Regions from separate parts of the Homo sapiens genome. Here regions 1 and 2 are each reported to be linked to region 3. Evidence: microRNA targets listed by miRTarBase, many of them from high-throughput screens and not tested one by one. Region 3 holds a microRNA gene; each other region holds the end of a gene's coding sequence.

The links. Region 3 holds the annotated microRNA hsa-miR-130a-3p (CAGUGCAAUGUUAAAAGGGCAU, at 3,212-3,233, shown strand). A microRNA usually pairs through its seed, bases 2 to 8, with sites in the 3' UTR of a target mRNA and lowers its output. Matches are read on the target gene's strand: a 7mer-m8 pairs with bases 2 to 8, a 7mer-A1 pairs with bases 2 to 7 and ends in A, and an 8mer does both.
Region 1: the mRNA of SLAIN1 is a reported target of hsa-miR-130a-3p. Seed matches in the 3' UTR shown: 7mer-m8 at 5,716-5,722, 7mer-m8 at 5,126-5,132 and 8mer at 4,967-4,974.
Region 2: miRTarBase lists MEOX2 as a target of hsa-miR-130a-3p. Seed matches in the 3' UTR shown: 7mer-m8 at 6,283-6,289 and 7mer-m8 at 6,130-6,136.

What each region holds. Positions count from the first base shown.
Region 1 is chr13:77,761,587-77,769,103 of GRCh38, reverse strand. SLAIN1 (SLAIN motif family member 1) reads right to left here. Exons shown (of 7, transcript NM_001242868.2): 7 at 4,875-5,959. The coding sequence ends at 5,884. Among named protein-coding and RNA genes, the nearest start is that of EDNRB-AS1, 54 kb to the left of the region's middle.
Region 2 is chr7:15,605,819-15,613,335 of GRCh38, forward strand. It overlaps MEOX2 (mesenchyme homeobox 2), which reads right to left. Exons shown (of 3, transcript NM_005924.5): 3 at 5,394-6,793. The coding sequence ends at 6,569. Among named protein-coding and RNA genes, the nearest start is that of AGMO, 48 kb to the left of the region's middle.
Region 3 is chr11:57,638,041-57,645,557 of GRCh38, forward strand. MIR130A (microRNA 130a) reads left to right here and starts at 3,158; the gene lies at 3,158-3,246. It overlaps YPEL4 (yippee like 4), which reads right to left. Exons shown (of 5, transcript NM_145008.3): 5 at 7,047-7,517. MIR130AHG (MIR130A host gene) reads left to right here and starts at 336. Exons shown (of 2, transcript NR_186232.1): 1 at 336-632. RefSeq lists silencers at 260-449, 470-529 and enhancers at 1,376-1,955, 5,230-5,729.

The DNA.
Region 1 (7,517 bases), not on the chromosome of region 3:
TCCACACAGGCTATTCCCTCTTTTTTTAGCAGCTTTCCTCAAAGGGTATTCTGCAAATCATCCAGAGGGCTCATTCAATAGATCTGGGATGATGCTTGAGAATATCAGCTTCTAACAAATTCTCAAAAGATGCTGCTGGTGTTAGAATTACACTTTGAAACCACTGCCCTGGGACATCCGCTATCTATAATGTATTAAATTATTTCCTGTGCATTTAAAATAATAATAGTTATAAACCCTCCTGGGAAGAACTGTGAAAATAGTCACTACAACTATTTCATGTTCTGTAGAACTCCAGATGAAAAAGGTTGTGAAACATCTTCAGGACTAACTCTCCATCGTCAAGCCTTTGCTCATACTAGCTCCTTAACGATATTGAAGTGGCATCGTTTGTCTGGGGAAACACCCGAGGTTCGTTGTCTCGCACTAAGAAAAATGAAGACCACAAGGTGTGGGTTTAAGAGCGGAAAGTTTAATAGGTGAAAGAAACAAAAGAAAAGCTGCCCCATGTAGAGGGAGGGGGATTCCGAATGGATCTCCCTGTTAGCAGCGGGATGCGGTTGGTTTTATAGAGGGGCTCGAGGAGGCGGTATCTGATTTACATAAGGCCCAGGGGATTGGTTGGACCAGGTGTGACATTTACATAGCCCTCGAAGACGCTGGCCATCCCACTCTAATCTTTTATTATACAGATGGGGTTTCTACCTGGCCAGCGCCATGACACCTGCACATGTGGTGACAAGGAAAAGGGAAGAGAAAACCTCCATGTTGGATGCTTCTGGCACGGCTGCCGGCATTCACGTATGCAAGCTTCCAGTTGCTTATCTATGTTTGCAGCTTGATTTTTCAGGCTGCTTTTTTTTTGTTAGAAAAGAAATGATTTGGGGGCTGCCTTTTCATTAAAGGAAAACCTTACCAAAGACTCCTGTACCCTCACTAACTGCCTAAATAATTTAACTCCTATATTAATATCTACTGAGGTGACCCTTTTAATAGTATGATTTCTCCCCACCCCTATTTTCTCTTAACTCCTCTTGTCTTGATCTCCTCTTTTCCCCCACAGAACTTATGACCTAACCTGCAGTGATTTTCTTACCTGTTTATGGTTTCTCCCCAACAAGAATGTAAAAGCCAAGATGAAGGGATCTTTGTTATTTTATTGCAAGGGCTAAGCAGACTTTTTTGAATATAAATCAAACATTTGAATGGAGAACGAATCGAATCCTTTTTCTCTGCAGAATAAAAAGTGATTAAAAAAAATACCAGCTACCTGTGTTCATTGGAAGAGAGCATAGTTGTGGGGAAAAATAAGACTTTTGAGCCAGATAAACCTGGATTCAAAGGTAAGCTGCACTATTTAAACATTGCTAAATGTTTACCCAAGACTAATGTCACTAATATGGTTTGGATATTTTGTCCCCTCCAAATCTCATGTTGAAATGTAATCCCCAGTGTCGAAAGTGGGTTAGTGGGAGGTTTGTGGCTCATGGGACAGATTCCCTCTTGAATGGCTTGGTGTCCTCCCCAGGGTAATATGTCCGCATGAGAGCTCTAAAGAGCCTGGCACCTCCGCCCTCTCTCTCTTGTTCCCTCCCACCGTGTGATACACTGACTTCCCCATTTGCCTTCTGCCGTTATTGTAAACTTCCTGACTCCTCTTGGGAAGCTGAGCAAATGTTGGCACCATGCTTCCTGTACACTCTGCAGAACTGTGGGCCAGTTAAACCTCTTTTCTTTATAAATTACCCAGCCTCAGGTATTTCTTTACAGCAATGCAAAAAAATAAACACAGAAAATTAGTACTGAGGAGTAGGGCATTGCTATAAAGATAACTGAAGATGTGGAAGTGGCTTTAGAACAGGGTAACAGAGGTTAGAAGAGTTTGGAGGGCTAACGACAGGAAGATGAGAAAAAGTTTGGGACTTCTTAGAAACTGATTGGAATGGTTATGACTAAAATGCTGACAAGAGATATGGACAGTGAAGGCCAGGCTGAAGAGGCCTCAAATGCAAATGAGGAACTTATTGGGAATTGGAGTAAAGGTCCCCCTTGTCGCTCCTTAGCAAAGAGCTTGCTGCATTGTGCCGATGTCCTAGGAATCTGTGGAAGGTTGAACTTAAGATGACTTAGGGTATCTGGCAGAAGTTTCTAAGCAGCAAAACATTCAAGAAGTGCTGTGGCTGCTTCTAACAGCCTATAATCAGATACAGAAGCAAAGAGATGACTTAAAAGTCAGAATATATATTTAAAAGGGAAGCAGAGAGTAAAATTTGGAAAAGTCAGCCGGGTGCAGTGGCTCACACCTTGTAATCCCAGCACTTTGGGAGGCTGAGGTAGGCAGATCAACCTGAAGTCAGGAGTTTGAGAATAGCCTGGCCAACATGGCAAAACCCTGTCTCTACTAAAAATACAAAATTAGCCAGTGTGGTGGTGAATGTCTGTAGTCCCAGCTACTCTACTCTGGAGGCTAAGGCAGGACAATCACTTGAACCCAGGAGGTGGAGGTTGCAGTGAGCTGAGATCATGCCACTGCACTCTAGCCTGGACAACAGAGCAAGACTCTGTATAAAACAAAACAAAACAAAACAAAAAAATTGGAAAAGTCACAGCCTGGCCCTGTGGTAGAGAAGGAATCCAAGTGGCCTGTGGAGTAACCACTTGAGAGATCAGCATGACTGAAAAAGAGCGAAGAGAATAGGGAAAAGGCCTCAAATGTATTTCAGAAATCTCTGAGGCAGCCCAATGCATCACAGGCTCAGGAGGCCTATGGGGGAAGAATGGTTTAAGGGGCCAGGCCCAGGGCCCCACTGCGCTGTGCAGTCTCAGGGTATCGTTCCCTGCATCCCAGCCACTCTGGGCCCAGCCTCGGCTCAAAGGGCCACAGGCACACCTTGGGCTGCCTCTTTAGAGGGCAAGTCATGAGCCTTGGTGGCTTCCACATGGTGTTAAGTCTGAAAGTACACAGAATGCAAGAGTGAAGGAGGCATGGCAGCTTTCACCTAGATTTCAGTGGATGCATCAGAAAGCCTGGGTGGCCAGGCAGAAACCTGCCACAGAGGCAGAGCCCTCACAGCAGCCTCTACCAGGGCAGTGCTAAGAGCAAATGTGGAGTTGGAGGCCCCCCTGCAGAATTGCCACTGGGGATGGCCTAGTGGAGCTGTGGGAAGGGGGTTGCCGCCCTTCATACCCCAGAATGGTAAAGCCACTGGCAGTTTACATCCTGAGCCTGCAAAAGCTGCAAGCACTCAACTCCAGCCCATGAGGGCAGCCACATGAGCTGCACCCAGTAAAACCACAGAGGCAGAGCTGCCCAAGGCCTTGGGAGCCCACCCCTTGCACCAGTGTGTCCTGAATGGAGGACATGGGGTCAAAGGAAATTATTTTGGAGCTTTAAGATTTAATGACTACCATGCTGGGTTTCAGACCTGTATGTGGCCTGTTGCCCCTTTCTTTTGGCCAATTTCTCCCTTTTGGAATGGAAATGTTTGCCCAATGCCTGTACCACCATTATCTTGGAAGTAAATAACTTGTTTTCATAATACAGGCTCATAGGTGGAAGGAGATGAGTTTCACATCAGACTTAGGACTTTGGACTTGATGTTGGAATGAATTAAAACTTTGGGGGACTGTTGGAAAGAGAAGATTACATTTTGCAATCCAAGGAGGGCATGAGACTTGGGGGCCGGGGTAGAACGATATGGTTTGTATATCTGTCTGCTCCAAATCTCATGTTGAAATGTGATCCCCAGTGTTGGAGGTGGGGCCTGGTGGAAGGTGATTGGATCATGGGGGCAGATCCCTCATGAACGGCTTAGTGCCATCCCCTGGGTGATAAGTGAGCTCTTGTTCTGAGTTCACACAAGATCTTGTTGTTTTTTTAAAAAGTGTAGAAACCCCGCCCCACCCCTTGCTCTCACTCTCACCATGTGATGCACCAGCTCCCCCTTTGCCTTCCGCCATGACTGTGAGCTTTCTGAGGCCTCACCAGAAGCCAAGCAGATGCTGGCACCACGCTTCCTGTACACCCTGCAGAACTATGAGCCAATTAAACCTCTTTTCTTCATAAATTACCCAGTCTCAGGTATTCCTTTATAGTGATGCAAAAACTGACAAATAATCACCTCTGTGGGACTTAGTGTCTTCATCTTTAAAATGGTGATAATAGTAGGTGAAAGTTAGTCCTAGACAAATGTATATAAAATATCTTGCACAGTTCTTTTGACTGAAGGGGTGCTTAATAAATATTACTTCCCTTTTCATATCTTACCTCCTCTAGCTCACATTCCACTTAAAGTGCAAGTTATTTAAACAAACATTCCTTTTAGTTCTAGAGAGAATTACATACAAAGGTACACTTTAAAAAAACTAAAAACCTCTAATGACTATAGGTAGAACTCCATTTCAAAACCTAACCTAAAAATCTTTGCCTAAACTTCCCACAGTACCTTCAAGTAAAGTTTTCCAACATATATCAAATATAATGCAGAATAAGGATAGTACTTGCTATTTTACTGATACTGAGAAAGTATTTCAAATTCAACTCCTATAAAATATTAAAATCTCCACTGACAATGTTCATCTGTAAATGTGTTTCTCAGCAACATGCTGCGTGAGTTTTAGTGGCCTCTTTAAATGGACCTAAACCTCCCTGTAAAACTACCTAACTAAAACTAATGTAAGAAAAATCATACAATTCTTATCAGGAGTACTTGGGAAAAGAAGAATAATTTTACAAATGTGAATATTCTAAGTCTACCTGCTTGAGATATAAATGCCCTGCACAAGAACAGAGTAACAATAAGCATTTTCACAATTGTAGTGAAACACATGTGTAGTTACACTGTTTATGCTGTACATTCATGCATGACCTGATATTGCTGAAATAGAGTCTTTATTTCTGAACATTCCAAAACAGCAGTGTACACAGTAACAAATATTAAGTTATATGCCATAAGAAAGCATTCATTAGTGCAAATGGATTTTGTAAAAGGTCTATCAAAAAGATTTATTTGCTTTAAAATGCATTCATTTCCAGAAGCATTGTTAATAAAACATTACAGTTTCATCCTTCGTAATAAAGTATTGAAAATCAATTGTGGTACAGTAGCAAACATTGCAGGTATTAAGTGCAATGAGCTCATGATGCCGTTATAAATATGAAACCCATGTATGACAATAAATTAAAAATGAAAAAGACAGGACCATTTAATTCTGCTGTCTGGTTATCTCCTTGCAATGCTTCAAATTATGTTGTGCTCATTCAACACAAAATTATGTGTCTCAAATTGCATGATGTGTTTTTGCTGATATATCCCTAGAGCTAAAAAAATAGTACCTTACCACAAAAATATTTTTATGGCACAAAATTTAAGTTGTTCCATAGTGGTTCACATAGGTGTAAAAAGAAATAGGCACAAAAAATAAAATTCCTGTAAACTATAAAAAAGTAAATTTCAAAGCATACATTATAGAACCTAGTTGTCAATATGCAATGTATTAAAATACAGAACATGTAATGGAAAGATGTTTAGAACACGTGAGTAAATTGAACAAGTTACTTTAAAAAACTCATATGGCAAAGCATTATTGATACATCTTAATTCTCTCAAAAAGTATTCAGGTACAGAGCAGTTCTACAAAAACTTCCTAGATCTAAGTGTCACAATACTGCAACCATGGGTTTGAGAATGTTGCAGTATCTCAGGCAAATATTTAAGTGCAATAATTAGTCTCTGGTGACTGGTCCATTGAGAAACAATGCAGTAAATATATTAAAACACAAAAGGGAAAGAATATCCCAACATCCACTGCTACCCAGCCAGCTAGGTAACACAACCCTCATTTTTACTTCTTTCCCATTTTTCAAGGGTACATAAAACTGCATTAGTAGCAACCATCTCTCCAATTTCCATCCCTCAGAGTGCTGAGTGAAGACAGAGGCTTTGGAGGCTGAAGAAAACTAAAAAGAGACAAGAAAAACAGAGAGAGAGATTGTTAATAATCCTATGAGTCACATCACTCACTTTGACCTACTCTCCCATCTATGTTCTTCCACTGCAGTAATGAGAAGCCACTGGCACCATCTCAAGTGTACCTTGTGGTTCACACTTACGGGTCTTCACTGCATGCTTATCTCCCAGAGCCCCAGTTCATGGCAAAGTGTCATGCATGTTGTATTTGCACAAGAAAATTTGCAACATAAATAAAGGGGCCAATACCCTTAATGTATAAAACATATTTTAAAATAAGAAAAATATAGGATCCTGGCTAGAAAAATGACCTAAAAACATAAATGGTTACTCTGTTGAATACAAACAGCAAATGAATATGAAGACATTTTCAAAACCTTATTAGTAATTGAAGATTTGCCTATCATATTCGCAAAACATTTAAAAAGAATCTTTGGCTGAGTGCAGTGGCTCACATCTATAATCCCAACACTTTGGGAGGCCGAGGCAGGAGGAAAACTTGAGGCCAGGAATTCAAGACCAGCTTGGGCAACATAGCAAGACCTTGTCTCTACAATTTTTTTTTCAAATTATCTGGGAGTGGTGATATGCACTGTAGTCCTAGCAAGGCAGGAGGATCACTTGAGCCCAGGAGTTTGAGGTTACAACAAGCTACAACCATAACACTGCACTCCAGCCTGGGCAAAAGAGCAAGACCCTGTCTCTAAAAAGAATAGATAAAATAAAAAATTTAAATTTAAAACAATTAAAAAGAATAATACCTAGCATTTGCTTAAGTTTGGGGAAATAGACCATCTCACATTGTCTAGCAGTGACCTTTCCAAGAGTTTAGTTTGGAGACACATAGTCAAGGATAAATGTATGGTCTACAATAACCATATACATCAAATAATGTGATTCTAGTCAGCCATCAGCATGATGACACAGCTCTGCATTTACAAAGCAGAATAAGCCAAAACTTACTGAATAAATAAACATGTACCAAAATTATTTCTATCTGGCAGTAGGATTATGGGTCAGTCTTTACTTTTCTATTTTTCAATAGTTTCTGTTTTTCGAAATTTGTTGTTGATCTGAGCATCTATTACTTCTAAACAAACAAAACAAAATAAAACTATTTATATATCCATAAATGCATAAAGACAGAAAAAAATTGCTTGTTCCACCTCTTTCAAACTTTTTACTATGGTTTTCTCCTTCTCCTTCATATCCTAATTTCTTGAAAGAGCTGTCTGTATTTATTGTCTTTATTTCCTCATCTACCAATCTCTCCTCAAACCACTTTTATGGATTTTTAATATAAGATACTCCATGATATCCAGTTCAAGAAGGGAACATCATGACCAAGAGCTAGACTAAATGTCCTTTGAAGTACTCTGAAACTTTGAAGGGAAAAAAAAAAAATTACTACCTGGACCATACTGAACTTACCAACATAAGCTGATAAAGCCCCAGGTGAATGTCATTAAGATGCTTTTCAAACCATAAATGTGTGGGAGGAGGGTGTGCGTGTGCACATACGCCTGACACATTTTTCCATATTTTGAT
Region 2 (7,517 bases), not on the chromosome of region 3:
AATACACTTAATATGTAAAAAGTTCTTACCAATTAATAAGAAATGAAAATGTTACAACTGAAAAAAAATTAAAAATATGATCAATAATTTAAAAACTATAATTATCAATAAATACATGAAGATGTTCAACTTCATTAATGATTGAACAAATACAAATTAAAATATGCTTTATCATCAGATTGCAAATAATTTTTAAAAATTCTAATAATTAAAATTATCCTATTTATGGAGAAATAGGTATTGGAATGAGTGTAAATTTGCAATACAAAATTGATAATGTATATTTAAAGTCCTAATAATAAACATACTTTCTTGTCCCAATAATACAATTTCTACAAAATCCCTTTATGGGAAAAATTAAATTTTACAGAGAATTATGTAAAAAAACACTTCAATGTTATTAAAGGGAAACTTGGAGAAAAAAATATCCAATAGTAAGGGATTATTAAATAGCATATCATAGATCCATAAAAAGAAATACTGTTCAGCTATTAAATATATTTATATTTTATTATTATGCAAAGAAACACCTTAGCTTACAGAGCAGCATATATGGTATATTTCCAAAATTATTTAAAAATATACATTTATACAGATATATATTTTCTAAAACTATGTATCATGTGAATAAAAAGGTTTGTCTTATATGTTCTTTTTTAAAAAAGCGTTTATCATAAGGAAATATCTGAACATGATTTAATGTATGTTAGCATTGCTTCTCAGCCTTTTGGCTAAGATCAAGTGTAATATGTTGTTAGCAAGGACACCTAAATCTATATGAGGTTTCCAGAGAAGAATATGGTCACTACTGAACATCTCTTCATTTAACCAATCCGATTTGTGGTCTGTTGTTAAATTGAATTCAAACAAGATATATCTCCTTTGATTTTTATTTCATAACATTTAGCAAATATTTTATTTCAGATACAAATGATAAGATTTTGCCCAATCATCATTCTTTGACACTGGCTACAATCACATGCCTCCAGTAAGCAAAAATTTGCCCAAAAATGTGGTAGTCAGAGGCAACTTTGAAAGGCTTATTTCACACGTTCTTCTAAAAGAAGTTGAGTTGGTGATACTTTTATAGAACGTGCAATTTCATGAGCCAATTTCTTTTTTTGCTATTGAACAATTCAAGAAGTATTTTTAAGTTCTCTATCAGTTTAGCATCCACTTTTCTTTCAACATTTTTTGCTGCTTTTAAATACCTAAACACCTGCTTACACCATATATATCTGTGATCATGAAAAATTACTGTATTTCACTGTCGATGAGTCCAAAGAAAATAATTAAACTCTGCCCTAGAAAAATAAAAGCCAAAGAAATAATCCAATTGAATTAATAGCTTGACCCTAAATAACAGTTTGAGTCCAACATTTCATCAAATAGGAAAATTAGAAGGATCTTGACTGATTGTTTTCCTTTATTGACAGTAGTATATTCAGGAAAAGGTAGAATAAACCGCCTTTCTTTAAAGAAAAACAAAGCCAGCAGTGGTAATTTTAAAAAAAACTACCTATCCTTAATGACAAGTATTTTCTAATCATTGTTTTTAAAATTAATATGTATTGAGGAAAAGAAAATTTTTAATGTTTTCAACTATAGTTATTACACATATGCAGAAACAAAGCCTATACTTAATTATAGGACAATTGATTGTTCCCAAAGCATCTGATTACTCTTTAATTTAAAAAAATACATGTCTATTTCAGTGAATCACTATTTGAAGTACAGAAATACAAAGTACAGCCTAAACTTGATATTACTATGTCCTCAAATCACTGTATCATCTCTTCCATGAAATGAATGTGACAATAATTTGTATTTGCAAATTCATTCTATTTTGGGAGCTGTTTCTGAAAACCATCTGTAACCAAAGTAAACAATATTTTAATGGGGGATTACTGAGCTGGCTGAATACATTGTGATGCAATCAAAAGTTTTCTGGAATTTTTCAAACCACAGTTTTAAGCTGCATTTGAATAAAACTTAGCTATTAAGGGGAAAAATAATTCATAAAAAAATTTTTAGTCTTAAATATACTTTCAATGTATTTAACCATCGTAAATGTGAAGATAAGAGTATTGTAAAAATACATGATATCAGAGAATTACTTAAAGAAAAAAACATATTTAAATTTTGAGCCGCATATTTTTATAGGTTCTTAGAGTTTGGTGTAGCAATCCTGTTTTCTGGAGCCATTTTTGTTCCTTTGTCTACGACTTCTAGCAACATTTTGCAAGAGTTGAAAGCAGAAATGTTGAGGTGCCCATGAGGATTGTTATTCATTACCCTGACCAGCTTTAGGCAGGAGATATAAAAACATAACCAAAAAAGCCACTTTTATGACAGTATTTGCAGATCAATCCTGCGTATTCCACGCTTGTAAGATTTGGAATGTTTGTAGCTGAAATTTATTTTTCTTTCTAGATTGCTTTTTACTGAAAGAATGCAACAAAGAGAGCTGCCAAGAAAATACAGTTATTCCCCCAAATAGTTCAAAGAACTATGCCAGGTAAGTATTTGTTGTTCATATTTTAAATATTATATTATAGTCTAAATACTAGTCACCTCAAATATGAACTGAATTATTTTAAAAGCATTTTATTAGAAAATAGGTCATGGCATAAATGGCTGCTTCTTAAAAGTCACCAGCCTCAGTGTATTTAGAAATTAAAGTGAAAAATACTTTCTTTAAATCTTTTCAGTCACTACCAGGATACTCTGTTCTTGAGACTGATTTTAACTGTATAGTTTCTCAAAACTTCTGTCAGGCGAAAATTAGCATCTGCTGTCATCAGTACGCCAGGAATTTAAGAAATGTTCTCAAAAACGAGTAGCATTGGAAATATAAAATATTTATTTTTATAACTTACTAAATATTTATTTTTATAACTTACTTTGTTTTAAGTTGGCCTCTAATCTTTTTTTTTTTTTTGAGACGGAGTCTCGCTCTGTCCCCCTGGCTGGAGTGCAGTGGCGCGATCTCGGCTCACTACAAGCTCCGCCTCCCAGGTTCGCGCCATTCTCCTGCCTCAGCCTCCCGAGTAGCTGGGACTACAGGCGCCCTCTACCGCGCCCAGCTAATTTTTTTTCGTTTTTGTATTTTTAGTAGAGACGGGGTTTCACCGTGTTAGCCAGGATGGTCTCGATCTCCTGACCTCGTGATCCGCCCGCCTCGACCTCCCAAAGTGCTGGGATTACAGGCGTGAGTCACCGCGCCCGGCCAAGTTGGCCTCTGATCTTAGTTTACTAGTCTGAGAAAAGCTTTTATTGAATTTCACAAGTGATTCCCACATTTATTACATGTAATGGCATTCATAAGCATATTAAAAATGTGATTGGGATTATTTTAAATGCATTTATTTCAAATTAAAAAAACAAAATGACAAACTCAGGTATTATGTATGGTTTCTGAAGAGGAAAATATAGTCTGACAGCAGATGGTAAATATGGGAAGTAGGAAGTAATTGGGGTCGTGTGAATAATGAGTTAAAAATATGTGGATCAGTCTTTGGAAAAACTTTGTAGTGTTCATCCTTCTGAATCCTACTGAAAAAAAAATCATCCTAACCATGATTTCATACTATTTTCAGAGAAAGGTGCTTTCATGCTGTTATGAATTTCCACAGAGCCACAGGGTCTGAGATAGAATTACACGAAAAGGGCATTATGCAATAAGATACCATGGCATGCCAGGAACCCAGTGTAGATTAAAAACAAGTAGAGTTCTTTCAGATTTTTGGCACCTTTGGAGTGAATTAAACCCAGATAGTTCATGAGAATATCTTAATTTTCCTCAAAGAATTTTAATTCCAAAAGGATATTGGGGTATAATGTAGCTAACCTATGCATCAGTTTGAAGACAGGAGGATACTGAAATACTTTAAAAAGATGGCAAGTTCCACTAATAAAAATTACTCTGGCTTCCCTGTTTGTCAGTGTGTTGACAATGTGATAATGTGTCAGGTGTCTTATGCGGCAGGCAGATCATTTTAATTCATCATAAAGAAAGTGATGTCTCTTTTCAGTCAGCCATGTGGCCTTTCCTACCACTTTGTGTTCTCTGGATCAAATTTCATTTCAGGATTGCTTACAATTCTCTAATAAAGATATGGCCATGATACAAAAACCTCCCATTTCCCGAATGTTATATCTATTCGGAATCCCTTTTTCCTATTTCATTTTCTTACTACATTGGAATTCTTACGTCTATTTGGCTACAACCATTAGCTCTCCTTTTAGCTACTTCTAAGGGGTCCTTTTCTCTTATTTCTGGAAATTATTTTCCTGCCCAAATGAATTATCCTCCACTTTGTCCCTATTGAACTCAATTTGATTCATATCTTCCCACTTCACTAATTTGTCAAGATGTTTTGAATTTAAATCCTCTTCTACAGTAAGAAAGTCAGTCCACCCAAGTAGATGTCATCAGCACAAGCAGACTTTGTATTAATTCAGGTGATTAATGGAAAAGTGTCTGTTTCATGCCTGGGAGACCTCAATTCGAATGGTCTATTCTCAGTTAATTTTAAAATACTGACAACTACTGAGGTAAAATGTATTACATGAAAGGAAAATGTGATACAAAAAAATTATTTATTTCTGGGATACTCTCTATATATCACGCTAGATTAAGTTAAAATATATCAAATTAATTTTTGTCAGTCTGATCATTCTAAAGCAAGTGTAATCAATTAACTGATGGGTTTTTGGAAATTTTTACTGATTGTTTTTCTGTATTTGTTTCGGATTGAGGCAGGGGAGGAAGGCTGGCAATGTTTCCAAGCATTTCTGCTTAGAATATGAAACAAATGAAAAACAATGTGATAAAGCTATAAGTAGGACTAAGGCACCCCATGCGTGTGCAATCATGCATGATGCAAAATACATTATGTTAATAGCATCCTTTACTTCTTGCATTAGTCCCATTAGAACTGAGGACTCTGATTAGCTTCTTTAGCTTATATTTCACATCAGAGACTCTGCATATTCAGACTATAAAACCACTGTTGGATTAACTTACATATATCAGACATAACTTTAAAAATGTATGACTATTTTATTTTCCTCACTGTGGTGAATACTATTATTTAATACTTTTTTCCTACTTTTATCTGTGGCTTCATAAAACACACAAAAAAATCCATTCACTGTATTCTTCAAATTAGAGAAATAGCTTAATATATGCCCATTCTTAGGCGCCCTTTGATTACACAAGGATTTATTTTTTTCCTGCCATAATAAAAAAATTCAGAAATGAAAAAATGTAAATAATCCACTAATTATAATCATCTGGATTTGCACAAGTGCAGATAGATTTGAGACTTTGTTAATCATTGATATTGAAATCTATAAAAATTAAGAAAATTAATGTAGGGAGACCAAAGTTATTTACAAAGGATCATTTATTAAACACATTTTAAAAACAAAATACAAAGATAGTTGTTCTGCATGAATACATCACATATGAAAAAATAATGTGTTTTTACCGAATTTAATTTGAAGATATTCAGAATTTTGTTTTCTATCAACTTGAGCAACCAGTTTCGCTTTGCACCTTGTCTAACACTGTTGTCAATCAGGAAGAAATGTTTTCTTGTTAATTAAATCATATTCATACAGCTAATATTTTACAGAAATAAAATAAGACAATGTCTGTCATACAAAGCTCTTTCTGCAAGGTAACTGATTTGCCTATGATCCTAATTGTTTTAAGCTATAAGATAGGAAGAATTCAGGAGCTAGGTAAGTTTTATAATAACGTATTAGCAGCAGTTGATAGTAAATGCAACATAAGATTTGTTTTGTCTGTGGTACAAGAATATGTCCTATCAGACTCTACTGTATTTTTCTCTACTTGAACACAGGTAAGCACATACTGATTGTCTCTGGGATGACAAAATGTATAAAAAAGACAAGAAACTGGCTCTGGTTGTCATTGTGAGTGCCTATTTTCATCAGCTAATATGAATGCATTGCTAAATTAGTGAAGACAGGAAAATGACTTAAGGGTAATATATACAGAGTTAAAATACACTTTTTATCCACTTGAGTGAATTCAGGCACTGTGGCTGTTCAGGATAAAATGTTTCATGGTTTATTCTTGATAGCAATTTAATTTTCAGTGCAAGCAAAAGCAAATACCTGCCCACTGTAATACACATGATCTCACACATCTGGAATGTTCAATGCAAGTTCATCCTCGGCATCTTCACTCTGGAGACATCTTGAATAAAAAACCGTTCATAGTTTGCTCTTGATAGCAATTTAATTTTCAGTGCAAGCAAAAGCAAACACATACCTGCTCACTGCCATACGCACGACCAAACACATCTGGAATATTCAAAGCAAGTTCACCTTCTCCATCTTCACTGTGGAAGCTCTTTAATAAGTGGCACTTTGTGTAAACCCTCTATAAATCATGAAAAACAGATTCGAAATGCCTGGATTTAATAATATTAAACATCACTGCCATAGTCATCTCTCTGTGTAAACGATATTTGGGTAAGGCTTGCCATCACAACATTTCTTTCCTGAGAATGGAGCTGGTCCTCTGTTTATATCATAAGTGCGCATGCTCTGAGCTGTGGTCACTGTCGTGACTGTCTTCATTTGCTATAGAGTCCCCTGTTTGCTGGAGGGTGGCTGCACCAATTCCCGACAGCTCTGATGGGAGAAGTGTTCCCTTTTTCACATTCACCAGTTCCTTTTCCCGAGCCGCAGCTCCTTGCTGTCCACCCTTTACCCTCTTCCACTTCATCCGCCTGTTTTGGAACCAGACTTTCACCTTCAACCAAGAAAGGGAACAAACAAACAGAAAAAAAGAGATAATTAAAGTGACATTTTTTTCTCCTTAGTGTCATCAATGAAAAGAAGTTCCTCAAAGGCTTATACAAAGACACCATGAAGGAGTGAATAGAAAAATAAATCCACGTTGAATTTAATCAGGTTACATGTTCATGATAATAATTTTTAAAGTTTCAAAAGGTGCATACAAAGTACTATATTTGTATTTTACAGCATACAATGTAAAATATGGAACTAAACAAAAACTTTGTCATTTAAGGCACTCAAAGCACTTGCGTCTATAAAGAGCTTCTGTGAATTGGAGCTAACATAATATTTGTGTTGGTCAAAGCCCCCCACTCCTAAGTTCTTCTTTGATTTGACATCCAGCTGTCATTTCCTGAACCAATTTAAAACATGCTCCTGCAGCTACTGATTAAGCGGCATCTGAAAGGCCATACTCTGCCATCAGAAACTACTGCTGCTTTCACAAATCTTTATTTGACCATTCCACCTCACACTGAGCCTATCTTCTTTTGAACTCTTCTTTTTATTTTCTACCTTAATTCATTTATTTTACTTTGCAAATATTTGATCTAGTGATTTCTTTAAAATATGGTCACAATAAAAAATTCTCAACATTTGTTAAATGCTAACACCAAGATTATATACTACATCATTCACATCAGCTTTGTACAGGTATTTTCTTTTTAAAAGCTTCATTG
Region 3 (7,517 bases):
CATCTGGGAACAGGGTTTCTGCCAGCCCCACCTTGGGGCCGCATTTGGCGGGAACTGGATCTGCCTTCACCTGCAGCCCTGTGCGGGGCGTGACGGAAAGAGCGGGGAGAGGGGCGTCCTGGTGCGGGGGTTGTTGAGGTGAGAAGCCAGGGGAGGGGGCTCCGGGAGCGCCCTGACCTCGCGGACTGTTGGGAGGCGGAGGGGATGGGGGTTGGGGGAGAAGAGGGGAGCCTGGCAGCCAATGGGAGGGAGGATCTCGTTTCAAAAGGGTTAACCCACAGCCAATGGGAGCCTGGGGGAGCGGATCCTGCTCACTCCATTCAAGAATCCCAAGTATTCAAGATGGACGGCAGGGAGTGTGGAAGGAGAAAGGGGGCGAGGGGGGAAGAGCGAGATCGGCAGAGGAGAGGGTCTCCGCGGCCCACCGGCCTCGCAACCTCGGTCCCGGCCGGCGGGTGGCGGGGCGGCCGCTGGGGATCCAAGCCCGGCCCGGGAGAGGGGCTGGCGGGGTGCGAGAGGGCGTGAGCGAGGGGGAGCGAGGCCAGGGAGGGGAGCCAAGAGGGAGGGAAGGGCAGAGAAAGAGCCCGGGAAGAAGGAGGTGGCAGGCAGAGGATCCTAACGAAGAGCAATGTGTAGGTATCGAGAGCTTCCCGAAGGGTAACGACACCGATTTTCGGTTTTATTCTCTCTTGGGGAAGGGAGGGGGACGGTCTGGGCTCTTTCTCTCGTCTTCCTTTTTCCCTCCTCATTCTCCACTCGTGGGCATCTTTTCTATTTTTTCCTTTGGAAACACTGTAACTGGGAAGCACCAGGCGTGTCTTTCTGAGGTGGCCTCACTGTCATTTTCCAGTGGGGGGCGTGGTGGGGTAGGGATGGGGGGCTCCGCTGGGCACGGCCGAGCTGGGCCATCTGTCTCCACCTGGGTTGTGTGCGAGGGCGTGGAGTGTTCCGAGGGGGACCGGGGGCCGAAGGGCTGGAGCAGGGCAGGGAGTTCTGCACCTCCAGAAGTTGTAGGGTGAGCCAGGGGCGGTGTGGGGGTGTGAGGCTGGTTTTCGAGCTGATAGTTGTGGGGTGTTGAGGGGTGCGGGGATGTGTGTGTGTGGGGGGCGTGCGCTCACACTCCAGTTCTTGTTGTTTGGGTGTGTAATGAGGGCTGAGTTGTGCAGCAAGTATGGCTGAGAGTTTGTGTGTGTGTGTGTGTGTGTGTGTGGTGTGTACGTGCGCCTGTGTGGTCCAGCCTCGAGGTGTGTGTGTTCGGGGGGAGCACAGTTGGGTGTTGAAGGAGAGCGCCCCTCACCCCCCACTTCCCAGCTGCCTCTCTCATCCCATTCACAGAACATGGCTTTCAGGACCCTCCTGGTCTCCTCCTCCCGTCGCCATGGCTGCGAGGAGGGGGTGGGAGGAGACAGTTGGGGCCAGCCCCCTGCCCCTGCTGCTCCAGCTAACCCCCCACCTGCCCTTTCTCTCCCTTTCACAGGCTGGGCCCCATCCCCTGCTGCTCTGGGGGCAGGGGCCGGAAGATGGTGGCCAATGAGGAGGGGGAGAGGAGAGAACTTGAGCCGGGGCCTCCCCTCCCCCATTTCCTCCTCGGTCTCTACACTCGCTTCTGGAAGGAGCTGGGGGCTGGCTCCTGGGCCCAAGGTGGGGGAGGGGTCCTGCTGGCTGGTGAGTCGCTGGGCCTGCTCCTCAGGAATGAGTTGGGTGTGTGAGAGCTGAGGGGCTCTTGGCCCTTTCTCCCTGCACTCCCTAAGGAGAGACCTGGAAACTTCTTGGGGAAGAATCTTCCCCTGGCCTCCCTGAAGCTTGCTGTGCAGCCTTATCTTTGCCCCTCTGCCCCCTGTTGGTGTGATCCAGTTCCCAGCTGGGCCTGGTTTGCCCAACCCCAGAGCAGAGAGGTCACTGACCCTCGAGGGGTCTTGGTTTCCGCCCATTAAAACTGTAGGGCAGGGCCCCATGTTTGCAGATTACGGGAACAAACTCTGCCGGGGAGAGCGGGAGGGAACGTCTCCTGCTTCCTGAGGGGGTGGGACGAGGCTAGAGGGAAGCCCAGAGGAAGAGCTCCCAACTGGAATTCTGTCCTCTATTCCTTACGGTGGCTGTGGATTAGGGAAGAAGGCATCTCCCCTTCGTTGATCGGGGCACTGGAGGAATCACCCTCCAGCCTCTGTTTCTCTGGGCTGCCCAAAGTTCACTGGGTCAGAACTGGAGCTGGGCTCCGGGGCTGTGGCCCTAGCTGGAATGTGCCACAATAGAGCCTGCCTGGGTCTGAGCCTCCAGATATCCAGGTGTCCTTCCAGGGCAGCTTTCTGGCTTTGGGTGTTAATCTTCCGGGGACTGTTTGTCCTGTATTTAAGCCCCCTTAGGGTTGGATAGGATGGGGAAGTGCTAGGATGAGCTTGAAGACTCCCCAACCAAGGGTCCCTGGATAAGACAGGAAATAACTCAGATGTGAATCCCACTGCCAGTGAAAGCCTATCCCTAACTCTCAGTAACTGTGAGCGAATCACCCTCACCATTTTAATGCTGAATCTGCAAAGTGCTTTCAGGACCTCCAAAAGGAGATGCAGGGGTGGGGCTTCACCAGCAGCTTTCACCTCCCCGCCTGGAAGCTTCTCTCTACTGCGTGGGGAGCTGTGACTACAGGCTCCCACCTCTCTGGTCCTGGAAGGTCATCTGAGAGTGTTGCCTTGAGGCCTAGAGCTCTGCTTTATCTAAATTTAAAAGGAGATGGAAACTTAGAGAAGAGTAGAGGGTTCTGTAGTCTTGGGCAGCAAGCTCCTCTCTAGAAGGTAAGCTAGCGGAAATGCAAATCCAGATGAACACAGCCTCATACGAGTGACCTCCAGACTTTGGGGATTGCTAATAGCCGTTTTCTTTGAGGACTGAGCATCAAGCCCGAAGTATCCCTGCAGCTGCTTTAGTGGGTCCTGTCCTCCCATGCCAAAACCTCCAAGAAAAAGGTGGTCTCTGTGCTGGGGGTCAGGGGGTTGGTGAAGAAGGCGGCAAAAGGAAGAGTGGTGAAAAAATAGAATGAACACTAAGAATGGAATAAAAGGGAAAAAAGCTGTATTGAAGCAAAGAAGGGGCAGAGGGAGCCCGTGAGCTGAGTGGGCCAGGGACTGGGAGAAGGAGTGAGGAGGCAGGGCCGGCATGCCTCTGCTGCTGGCCAGAGCTCTTTTCACATTGTGCTACTGTCTGCACCTGTCACTAGCAGTGCAATGTTAAAAGGGCATTGGCCGTGTAGTGCTACCCAGCGCTGGCTGCCTCCTCAGCATTGCAATTCCTCTCCCATCTGGGCACCAGTCAGCTACCCTGGTGGGAATCTGGGTAGCCTCACTTGTTAGTTATACTAATAGCTCTCATTTATGGAACTACTTCTGTATGCAGTGCTTGTGATAGACACTGCCTCCGTTACTGTGAAACCTAATAACTTCTGGGAGGTAACAGCCCCATTTTATGGATGAAAAACTGAGGGTCAGAAAGGTTTAAACAGTTTGGCTAAGATTGTGTAGCTCTTAGGTTGCAAAGCCTAGATACAACCCTGTGTTAAGTCTTGACAGCTCACTCATCTTTTTGTAGACCCATCTGGAGAGATCTGAATAGGTTCTTCAAACTGGGAGATTTCCTGAGCTGAGGGGTGGAAGGTTTTGATGCCATCTGCTGGTTGTATGAGGATATCTTCCAAAGCCTCAAACCTTTAAGGACCAGAAGTGGTGGCAACTCCTTAGGCTAAGAAGGATAAGCATTCCCAGACTCAGCCCGGAATGGAGAGTGAGTGGAAAAAGATTAGGAGAATCACTATTAGGTACAGAGTAGGCCTCCTTGAGAAAAAAAGGAATGCACCAGAAAGGAAAGGGGGTTAACTCGAGAGGATTGCTCCCCAAAGAAAAGGACCTGTGTGCTGCTGGCATCCCATACCTACAGCTCCTTCCCTGGCTCATGAGGCATGGAAAGACCTCACTCCTTCCCTGAATCCACTTACCTTTCTCAGCACCACTCCCTCTTGGTCACGGGGTGTTTGATGGTAATGCTGCTTGAGGGCACACCTGTCTGGGCATCCAAGATTTGGACAGCGTTGCCCATGACTTAATCTTAAAGATTAATAGGATCCCTTGAATCAACCCACAGAATGATTCTCCCAGGACCAATTACAAGGAAATTGAGGCCGGGTGCGGTGGCTCACGCCTGTAATCCCAACACTTTGGGAGGCCGAGGCGGGCGGATCACCTGAGGTCAGGGGTTCAAGACCAGCCTGGCCAACATGGTGAAACCTCGTCTCTACTAAAAATACAAAAATTAGCCAGGCGTGGTAATGCACGCCTGTAGTCTCAGCTACTTGGGTGGCTGAGGCAGGAGACTCTTGAATGAATCTTGGAGGCAGAAGTTGAAGTGAGCCGAGATTGCGCCACTGCACTCCAGCCTGGGCAACAGAGCGAGACTCCATCTCAAAAAAAAAAAAAAAGAAAGAAAAATTTGAGAGCAATGACTCAGCCATTTACTTCTCTGTCTCCCACAGTGCCTAGTAGGCTTAATTAAAACTTGTTAAAATAAATTGAATGAGAGGAATATTTGGGGAGCTTCTTTAAGAAGGCAGCTAGTATTCCTGGTCTTTTGGCTAAGATCAAGTGAAGAAGGCAGCTAGTTTGTGCCTGGTTTTCAACAGCAGAGTTTGGGACTTGAGAAATCTTCCCTAAACTTTGGTGCAAGAAATGGGTCCAAGAGGAATAGGGTTTTGAGGTCCTCTGCTGGACCCTGAGAGGGATCTTGGCATCATGAGGCATGTAGAAACTGAAAGATGGGTCAGACTCCCCTGAGGCCTTAGTTGAGGGATGTTGGACATCTCTCCATGGCTTGCCTTTTTCCCTTGCCCTTTTACTTCTGTGCCTTCCAGTTCTAGTCCTCCTTTCTCCTGCCCAGACAGCCTCTCCATTCTGATCACAACAACAGTATTTGAGATAGTACAGTTAGCTTTATTTCCCTTTTTTTTTTTTTTTTAAGACAGAATCTCACTGTCGCCCAGGCTGGAGTGCAGTGGCGCGATCTCGGCCCACTGCAACCTCTGCCTACCAGGTTCAAGTGATTCTCCTGCCTCAACCTCCTGAGTAGCTGGGATTACAGGCGTGCACCACCATGCCTGGCTAATTTTTGTTGTCCAAGCTGGTCTGAAACTCTTGGCCTCAAGTGATCGCCCACCTCAGCCTCCCAAAGTGCTGGGATTACGGGTGTGAGCCACCGCACCCTACCATATGTTCCTTACTTTCTCCAGTCTATTAAAACTTCTATTTGAGCCTCTTGTCTGGGCACAAATAGCCATTTGATACTGCCACTCCACTCTAAAAAACAATAATTTTCCCATATTTCCCTAATACCATTGGGATTAAATCTAGATTCCCTAAATAGTTTATGGCTCCTGCTTCTCTTTCCTTTCATGTCCTCTCACCCACTTTTTAAGGAGACAAAGTTTTGCTCCAGCCCAGGCTGGAGTGCAGTGGCGTGATCATGGCTCACTGCAACCTCAGCCTCCTGGGCTCAAGTGATCCTCCTGCTCAGCCTCCTGAGTAGTCGAGACTACAGGTGCAGGTATGGCTTTTTTTTTTTTGAGACAAGATCTTGCTATATTGCCCAGGCTAACCTCAAAGTTTGGCCTCAAGCAAGCCTCCAGCCTTGGCTTCCTAAAGTGCTGGAATTAAGGCGTGAGCCACTGCTTTCAGCCCACAAGCAACTTTTATTTCCTTCAATTAACTAAACTTAAGTTACTTGACACATACTCTGTCTGAAATACTTCCATCACTTTTGCCTTTGCCTACCTAACTTCTTATCTTTCAAATGCCATCGTAGTCATCGCTTTTGTGAAGCCTTCCTTGACTCCTTACATCTAAGCTGAGTTCCTTTCCTATGAGCTCCCAAGCTTCCTCCACGTCCCTGCTTAGATCCCTTATTATCATCTTCTACTGGGATTTCCTGGTTATTGCATCTCCTACTGGACAGAAAGCTCCAGGAAGTCAGGTCACAGCTGCCTTATCTTCACCATGTGCTTAACATCTAGTGCTTAACACAATGCCTGGCAAGTAATAGATGCTTTATAAATATTTGGAATATTAATGAATGAATCTGGAAAGAATATTATAGCTTACCAAAAAATGATCTTTATGATGTATATGGTCTCCCCTGTAACTGTTGGGCACCCAACAACAGTAGGGATTTCATACCACTGCCAATAAAATGTCCCTTGGGTCATATGGTGGCATTGATGTTGCGATTTTGAGCTTTTTTTTTTTTTTTTTTTTTTTTTTTTTGAGACGGAGTCTTGCCCTGTCGCCAGGCTGGAGTGCAGCAGCACGATCTTGGCTCACTGCAACCTCTGCCTCCTGGGTTCAAGTGATTCTCCTGCCTCAGCCTCCCAAGTAGCTGGGATTACAGGCACGTGCCATCATGCCTGGCTAATTTTTGAATTTTTAGTAGAGACGGGGTTTTGCCATGTTGGTCAGGCTGGTCTCAAACTCCTGACATCAGGTGATCCACCAGCCTCGGCCTCTCAAAGTGCTGGAACTGCAGGCGTGAGCCATCGCGCCCGGCCTAATTTTTGAGCTATTTTGTTTCACTTCCCATCAACTGCCAGAGCAGCACTTTGGCTGACTGATTTTCCTTTTAGCCTTAAGTGTGCCCATGAACTGACCAGAGCATTACAGAACCAGGCTGAAAAGCCACGGGACTCAAGAAAATCCTTATTCTGAGATGAGCCTCTTTCAGAGCCCGATCCTGGATCTAGGCAAAATGGACTTACTGTCAGGGGTGCCAGCAGACACAAGCGGTTTTGGATGCTCTCGCCGAGTAGCTAACAAAACCCACCCCTCTTACTAAGGCAAAACTTCACCTGAACGCTTATTCCCCGGTAAAAGCTCAAGCAGTAGTCTTGCCATAGACAGGGCAACTGCTGCCCCCTAGTGGTATAAAGGGACAGGCCCGGGTGGGTGGGGGTGTGTGTGTGTGACGGGGACAGTTTATGGGTACATGCACAGGGAAAGAAAGTCAGAGGACAGGTTGCCTCAAGTTGCTTTTTCCCTTTTTATTAAAAATAGACTCAAGCACTTTATGTATCATACAAAAGTTTCATTCGCTGGTGGCAGCCACGGGAAAGACTGGCCCCGTAGCACTGATTTTCCACCTCCCCTCCAGGGGACTGGGTCCCAGGAGCAGTGACTGGGCCTCAGAGAAAGCCCATAAAGACTGCTTACTCTGGAAGCAGCCGACTAGGGGCTGTTCCGCGAGCAGCTGTCCCCACCCCACCCAATGGCAAAAGTTAGATACTCGAAAGTGCCTCTTCAGTGCCAAGATAAACTAACAAGTGGAGTGAAATGGAAAACCCTTTGATTATTTTACTATTTCCCAGGGCCTGGGATTTGAGTTTTCCCTGCACTCAAGTCCTTTTCCCTACAAATAGGGGTAGGAAACTTCATCCTCAGAGACTCTGGTCTCCTGGTGTCTGAGACCAGAATTTCACTCCAACCCAAGTCTTT